Linked DNA regions of Homo sapiens. The protein of the gene in region 2 purifies or fractionates together with the protein of the main gene of each other region. This does not show direct contact. Each region holds a gene or a part of one and is shown on either strand. Other genes may lie near its edges.

What was found. The genes of interacting proteins can lie anywhere in the genome.
Region 1: the proteins of PIK3C2A (region 2) and RBSN fractionate together in Homo sapiens (co-fractionation; one large-scale study listed by BioGRID). This does not show direct contact.

The regions. Positions count from the first base shown.
Region 1 is NC_000003.12:15,078,570-15,082,221, forward strand, and holds part of RBSN (rabenosyn-5), read right to left. Parts: intron 2,234-3,652; coding exon 2,163-2,233; intron 1-2,162. UniProt on the Homo sapiens protein: Rab4/Rab5 effector protein acting in early endocytic membrane fusion and membrane trafficking of recycling endosomes. Required for endosome fusion either homotypically or with clathrin coated vesicles.
Region 2 is NC_000011.10:17,201,403-17,205,054, forward strand, and holds part of PIK3C2A (phosphatidylinositol 4-phosphate 3-kinase C2 domain-containing subunit alpha), read right to left. Parts: intron 2,974-3,652; exon of another isoform or gene 2,905-2,973; intron 1-2,904.

The DNA of each region.
Region 1 (3,652 bases), on a different chromosome or scaffold from region 2:
GGCCAACATGATGAAACCCCATCTCTACTGAAAATACAAAAATTAGCCAGGCATCGTGGTGGGTGCCTGTAATCCCAGCTACTCAGGAGGCTGAGGCAGAAGAATTGCTTGAACTGGGAGGCGGAGGTTGCAGTGGGCTAAGGTCGCACCACTGCATTCCAGCCTAGGCGACAGAGCAAAACTCGGTCTCAAAAAAAAAAAAAAAAATACATATATATATATATATATATATATATATATATATATATATATATACATGGTTTTGTTTTAAATATATATATACACATGGTTTTGTTTTTAAAAAAGGCACATCTACTACTACATGCATCGCTTTAAATGTGGCAGATAGGCAACACAGGTTTAAGACAAAGACAGAAAACTCTGAAATTAATAACACTAGATACCATAATTAATTCTTTTCCTACAGGTTGGGAAAACACTGCTGGGATCTGACTCTAGTAGTTAGCACTTTAACTTCTAGGTTACAAACACTAAGCTTCAGAAAAAGCAACGATCTTAAGCAGGGATCAGCAAATTTTTTCCATAAGGAGCCGAATCATAAATGTTTTCAGCTTTGCAGGCCACACAGTCTCTGTTGCTGCTATTCAACTCTGTCATGGTGGTGCAAAAGCAGCCACAAACAGTAATCAAACATGGGCATGGCTGTGTTCCAATAAAACTTTATGCAAACAGGTGGCAATAACTAGTGTTGGTAAGGCTATAAAGAAAGTGAAACCCTCATACACTGCTGGTGGGAATGCAAAATAGTGCAGTCATTCCACAAAACGATTTAGCAATTCCTCTATGGAATGTTACTCTATGGTAATATATAGTTACCATAAAACCCAGCAATTCCACTCCTAGGTACCTACCCGAGAGAAATGAAAACATGTCTACACAAAAAACATAAAAACTTGTACTCAAATATTACAGAAGCATTATTTATAACAGCCAAAAGTGGAAAAAACCCAAATGTTCATCAACTGATGGATAAACAAAATGTGACAAGTATCCATGCAATGCATTCATACAGATGGAATGAAGTACTGATACATGCAACAACATGGATGAATCTGAAAAACAGTACACTGTGTGAAAGAAGCCAGACAAGAGAGATTTTATATTTATGATTCTATTTATATGACATGTCAAAAGCAGACAAATCCATAGAGACAGGAAATAGATTAGTGGTGTCCAGGGAGATGGGGAAAGGGCAGTGGCTGCTAATGGGTATGGGGTTTCCTACTGGGGTGATAAAAATGTTTACAATGAAGACAGTGGTAATGTTCGCTAATTTTGTGAATACGCTAAAAACCACCAAACTGTACACTTTAAAAGGGTAAAGGTTAGGGTGTGTGAACTACATCTCAATTTTAAAAAAGAAGCAGATGTTGGCCAGACACGGTGGCTCACGCCTGTAATCCCAGCACTTTGGGAAGCCAAGGCGGGTGGATCACGAGGTCAAGAGATCAAGACCATCCTGGCCAACATGGTGAAACCCCGTCTCTACTAAAAATATAAAAAAATTAGCTGAGCGTGGTGGTGCGTGCCTGTAGTCCCAGCTACTTGGGAGGCTGAGGCAGGAGAATTGCTTGAACCTGGGAGGTGGAGGTCACAGTGAGCCGAGATCACGCCACTGCACTCCAGCCTGGCAACAGAGTGAGACTCCGTCTCGGAAAAAAAAAAAAAAAAAGCAGATGTCAGGATACATTTGGCCCACGGGCTGCAGTCTGCCAGCCCCTGCTCTAATGGTCATGCCTGCTTTAAGCCCTGACACCTCAATGTGACACTCAAGTGGCATCTACCCAGACATGAGCATGAGACCCACTGCCCTTCCTCTGCTCTGTCCAGATGCTGCACTCAGCAGCAGTACCTATTGTCTGAGGCCCTTCCCAAACCTGCTCAGTCAGAATAGCCAAGGTCAACTGAATGTGGCTGTCTTTCTACAAGCTCATGTGATGGTAGCCTGTACCCCACTAAAAGACAGACATGAAGATGATTCTCTTCATAATAGCCAAAAGTGGAAAAAAACCAACTTCAGCTGGTCTCAGAAAAAAAGCACGGTTGAAGTTAAGATTTTCATTTTTGGCTACTGGAGAATTGACCTAAAATGCCAGAAAACAGTCACCACTGGATTAGAAAAACATAGATGAATAGCTTACTTTAATGATGCTGCCATCCTGATGTATTCTGGAGCTTTCTGGTCAACTTTCTCCATGCAAAGTCGTAATTTCTAAGAACAAAAACAAAGAGGTAAGTGGTATGCTCAAGATATAGAAACACCTACCCAGAAGCTAGGCTCCATCAATGGAGCTATATTTAAAATGTTCACTTTTCTAACACATTAATTGTTGTTATCAATTTCCTGATTTATAGGCATACTTTCCAAGCAGAAAATTTTGTAGGAAGGAAAGAAAGTGAGAATGGAGCTTCTGATCAGATGTTTCGTTTTGTTTTTTTTTGAGAAGGAATTTTGTTCTGTCACCCAAGGTGGAGTACAATGGCGCGATCTCCACTCACTGCAACCTCTGCCTCCTGGGCTCAAGCGATTCTCATGCCTCGGCGTCCTGAGTAGCTGGAATTACAGGCACGCTGCCACCACGCCCGGCTAATTTTTATATTTTTAGTAGAGACGAGGTTTTGCCATGTTGGCCAGGCTGGTCTCGAACTCCTGGCCTCAAATGATCTGCCTGCCCCGGCCTCCCAAAGTGCCCGGCGAGATGTTTTTGAGAGGAGCAAGGCTTCCAGGGCACAAGCCAAGGTGTCTACCAAGACAAAAAGGAATTAGCTGCTACTTTCTTTCTCTGCCAAGTGATGCCAGGCAACAATGGGAAACCAGCACAAGGCATTGCCAGGGCTTACTTCAAAAGAGGAGGTGGCACAAGCACCGTGGGTATTCACAGAAATGAGATACCAGGTCGTGAACTCCACACAAAGGATGGAGAATGCTACATCTGCAACCCAACATGGGGCTTAATTGACACCATTTCTAGTAGCCTGAGTATTTACATAGGGATTCCAGAAACAGTGCCATTATGACCTGCAGAACTACTAACAATGACTATTCAGTGGTCATTAGGCAAAATTACACTCTTCCTCTGTTCAGAATGTTGCACAAGCTGCTTCCTCTGCCTGGGCTGATCTCTTCCCTGCATCTCTTACTGCCTCCCCACCCAGTCCACCTGGCTAGTCTTCCTCAGCTCACAGGTCTCACCTGGCCATTAAGGGACCAAGCCAGTCTCACTCCCAGATATTCTTTGCACACTATTTCCTCTCAGAGTATGCATCTAGTAGGGGGGCTGTGGGATCACTCAAGTAACGACAGCTGAGGCATTTGGACAAACTTAGAAGGGGACACTCAGTAAACTGGTGAAGCCTGAAAACTTGTAGAACTTTCTAAAACTTGTAAAGTCTAACACTCCCAAGTGAGTTTCCCAGGATTCTTCTGGCCCACTGTTTATGAACATCTCTAGCTTCTGCCCTTCCCACAGAACCTGTCTACACCACATGGCAACTGCCCTTCCTCCTATTGCCTCTGGGCCACCAAAGCTTCCACCCACCTGCTTTCAAGTGGCCAAGGAAGGCCACTTGAAACGAGTTTGTTGCAACACACCCAGGATGACTCTGACTCACACAGGGCCCTAGCTGGGAA
Region 2 (3,652 bases):
TGTAATCCCAGCTACTTGAGAAGCTGAGGCAGGAGAATCACTTGAGCCTGGGAGGCAGAGGTTGCAGTGAGCCAAGATCGCACCACTGCACTACAGCCTGGTGAAAGAACGTGACTCCGTCTCAAAAAAAAAAAAAAAAAAGAAAAAAGAAAAAAAAAAAGAAAAGCTTTCCCTAAACCTACGTTTTATGTTCCCTTAGCTAAGTTTTCCCTTAAGTTGTTCTCTGTGCATTGAAATAACACTATCCTTAACACCTCATCATCTTCTTCTTCCTATAGTAAGGATTTACAATCTAAACTCTTTACTCAAAAATCTTGTCTAATTAACTCTTATCTATTTTCCATTTGACTATATTATCCCTTACATCTTTTCTTTCCCGTAACAAATTTTTTTAAATAACTGAAGTACTTTTTGCTACATGGATTGTAGTTAGTTGGTCTCTCCTAGTTGGAATATAAACTTCCCAAAGGCAGGAAGTAACTATTTCTTTATACACTCCAAAAATCTGGTTTGTACTATGTATCTAAACACTCAAATGCCATATGAAGAGATTCAATGAAAAGAATACTGGGGCCCGGGGCGGTGGCCCACACCTGTAATCCCAGCACTTTGGGAGGCAGAGGCGGGCAGATCGCCTTAGGTCAGGAGTTCAAGACCAGCCTGGCCAAAATGGTGAAACCCCATCTCTACCAAAAATACAAAAATTATCCGGGCATGGTGGCATGCACCTGTAATCCCAGCTACTCGGGAGGCTGAGGCAAGAGAATCACTTGAACCCAGGAGGCGGAGGTTGCAGTGAGCTGAGATTGCGCCATTGTACTCCAGCCTGGGCGACAAGAGTGAGACTTCATCTCCAGAAAAAAAAAAAAAAAAGAAAGAAGGAAGAAAAGAAAAGAATACTGGGGTGGACGTGGTGGCTTATGCCTGTAATCTCAGCGCTTTAGGAGGCCAAGGTGGGCCCAGGGGTTCAAGACCAGCCTGGACAATGTGGCAAAACCCCTCCTCTACAAAAAACACAAAAATTAGCCAGGCGTGATGGCACGTGCTTGTAGTCCCAGCTACTTGGGTGGCTAAGGTGGGAGAATCACCCAAGTGTGGGAGGCAGAGGTTGCAGTAGGCTGAGATGGAGCCACTGCACTCCAGCCTGAGCGACACAGAGAGAACCTCCCTCAAAAAAAAAAAAGAACAGAACACTGGGCCTAGCATTGTTAAGACCTGAATTCAAGCAATGCTTCTAATTTATTATGCTAAGTAAGTCACAACATCTTTGGGCCTCAGCAAAATCAGAATACTTGCTGTATTTACCTCACAGGTAATAAGGTCTTGGAGGGAAAACAGTGTTAGCTAAGCTATAACCATCAGTCAATCCAAGTGTAAAGATGTATTATTGTCAGTCATAGCTATCTTGTCTAAAATTAGCCACTAGTGTTTTTTAACCAAGCTCAGTGCACAGCAAATTAAGTGCACCAACATTGCACATCAGTCATATCAATAATGTAACTGTTATACTGTAATACTAACAGAAAGCCTTATGTTTAACAGTAAGCATGTTAATTATACACTATCTTAATGCAGTCTCAAGGTTAAAAGATAAATACTTGTTGCTAAGCCAACAATAACTGCCTTCAAATCTATTAAAAGAGGATTTATAAATCCCATTTGTTTTTGTACCCAAATAGCTAAGTTTAAAATTTTAAGAAATCCAAGAATTAGTTTAAAATTGTATAAATTCTCCTTTTAACTTTCTAAAATGTCCATATGCACTCTCATTGTGTTTTAAATCCATTACATTAGAAAAACAGACTGCAGGCCGAGTGCAGTGGCTCATGCCTGTAATCCCAGCAGTTTGGGAGGCCAAGATGGGAGGATCGCTTGAGGCCAGGAGTTCAAGACCAGCCTGGTCAACATAGTGAGACACCATCTCTATTAGAAAAAAAAAAGAAGAAAGAAAAAAAGAAATAACATACTGTAGAAAAAAAGGATACAAAGTATACATAAATGAACAAAATAAAGATAACAAAAATATGACTCCACTACAGATGCAGAGAAAACAAAGACATTTCTTCTCATCCCAACCATAATCCTATGAACAACCTGAAAGATACTTACAGCAATATTTGCAAGTATGACCATAATTCTCATCAAAAGAACATCATATATGAGTACCATCAAAATGATTACAAATTATAAATTACCAGTGATAATTTTCTCATTGGAGTCCCTTTTCCTTTTTCAAGCAGAGAACCAAGACAGAATAGCCTCTAGATCTTTTTTGTGGTGGTGGTTGTTTTTTGAGACAGTGTCTCACTCTGTTACCCAAGCTGGAGTGCAGTGGTGATCATAGCTCACTGCAGCCTCAAACTCCTAGGCTCAAGAGATCCTCCTGCTGGCAGGGTACAGTGGCTCACGCCTGTAATCCCAGCACTTTGGGAGGCCGAGGCGGGCAGATCACAAGGTCAGGAGATTGAGACCATCCTGGCTAACACCGTGAAACCCTGTCTCTACTAAAATAATATAAAAAATTAGCTGGGCGTGGTGGCGGGCGCCTGTAGTCCCAGCTACTCGGGAGGCTGAGGCAGGAGACTGGTGTGAACCTGGGAGGCGGAGCTTGCAGTGAGCGGAGATCACGCCACTGCACTCCAGCCTTGGCGACAGAGCGAGACTCCGTCTCAAAGAAAAAAAAAAAAAAGAGAGATCCTCCTGCCTCGATCCTCCAAAGCACTGGACTATGGGCATGCATTAATGCACCCAGCCTCTAGATCTATACTGTCCAATATGGCAGTTACTAGTTACATGGAGCTATTAAGTGCCTGAAATGTGGCTGTTCCAAATTGAGATGTACCAAGTGTAACATACACCAGATTTAAAAGATTTAGGGGAAAAAAATAATGTAAAATCTCCTACCTATGTGACTCCCATTTTTGGCTCACATATTTCTCATGTACAGCACTGCTTTATATATGTAGTCGAATCCTGAATAAGGAAAATGGATACCAGAAGTATTAAGCAGTTTGCTCAATATCTCACCGCTTGATAGAAGCAGAGCAGGGCCTAGAACCTGATCACGTTTATCCATCCTGCCCTTATGAATAGAAGGAATTAATCATTTAAGACTCAACTTGAGCATCCTCTTCCTCCTCAAACCCCCTCATTCCTTTTCCATCTCCCAGCCCAGGTGACCATATCCTATTTAGCCTGCCCTTATAATTATACTGTTATAAAATGTACGTTGTCTTCCAAATGGATGAGAAATTCTTGAGAGCAAGCACTGTCTCATTCATTTTTCTTATCCCTGGGAACCTTTGAAGTACCAGGCACTCTTTCAGGCCCTCCGGCACTCTCAGAGCTTTGAGAGGGTTAATTTTTAGCCCTATGCAGGTACAACTACTAAAATGAAATCACCTACAATGTGATGCACCACCAGAAACATCCACATTTATCATTTGCCTGTCTTAAATTATTTTTGGAATATGCTAAATTAATACAATGCATAGGCCAGGCGCAGTGGCTCACACCTGTAATCCCAGTACTTTGGGAGGGCGAGGCGGGCGGATCACTTGAGGTCAGGAGTTCAAGACCAGCTTGACCAACATGGTGAAACCCCGTCTCTACCAAAATACAAAACTTAGGTGGGTGTGGTGGTGTGCACCTG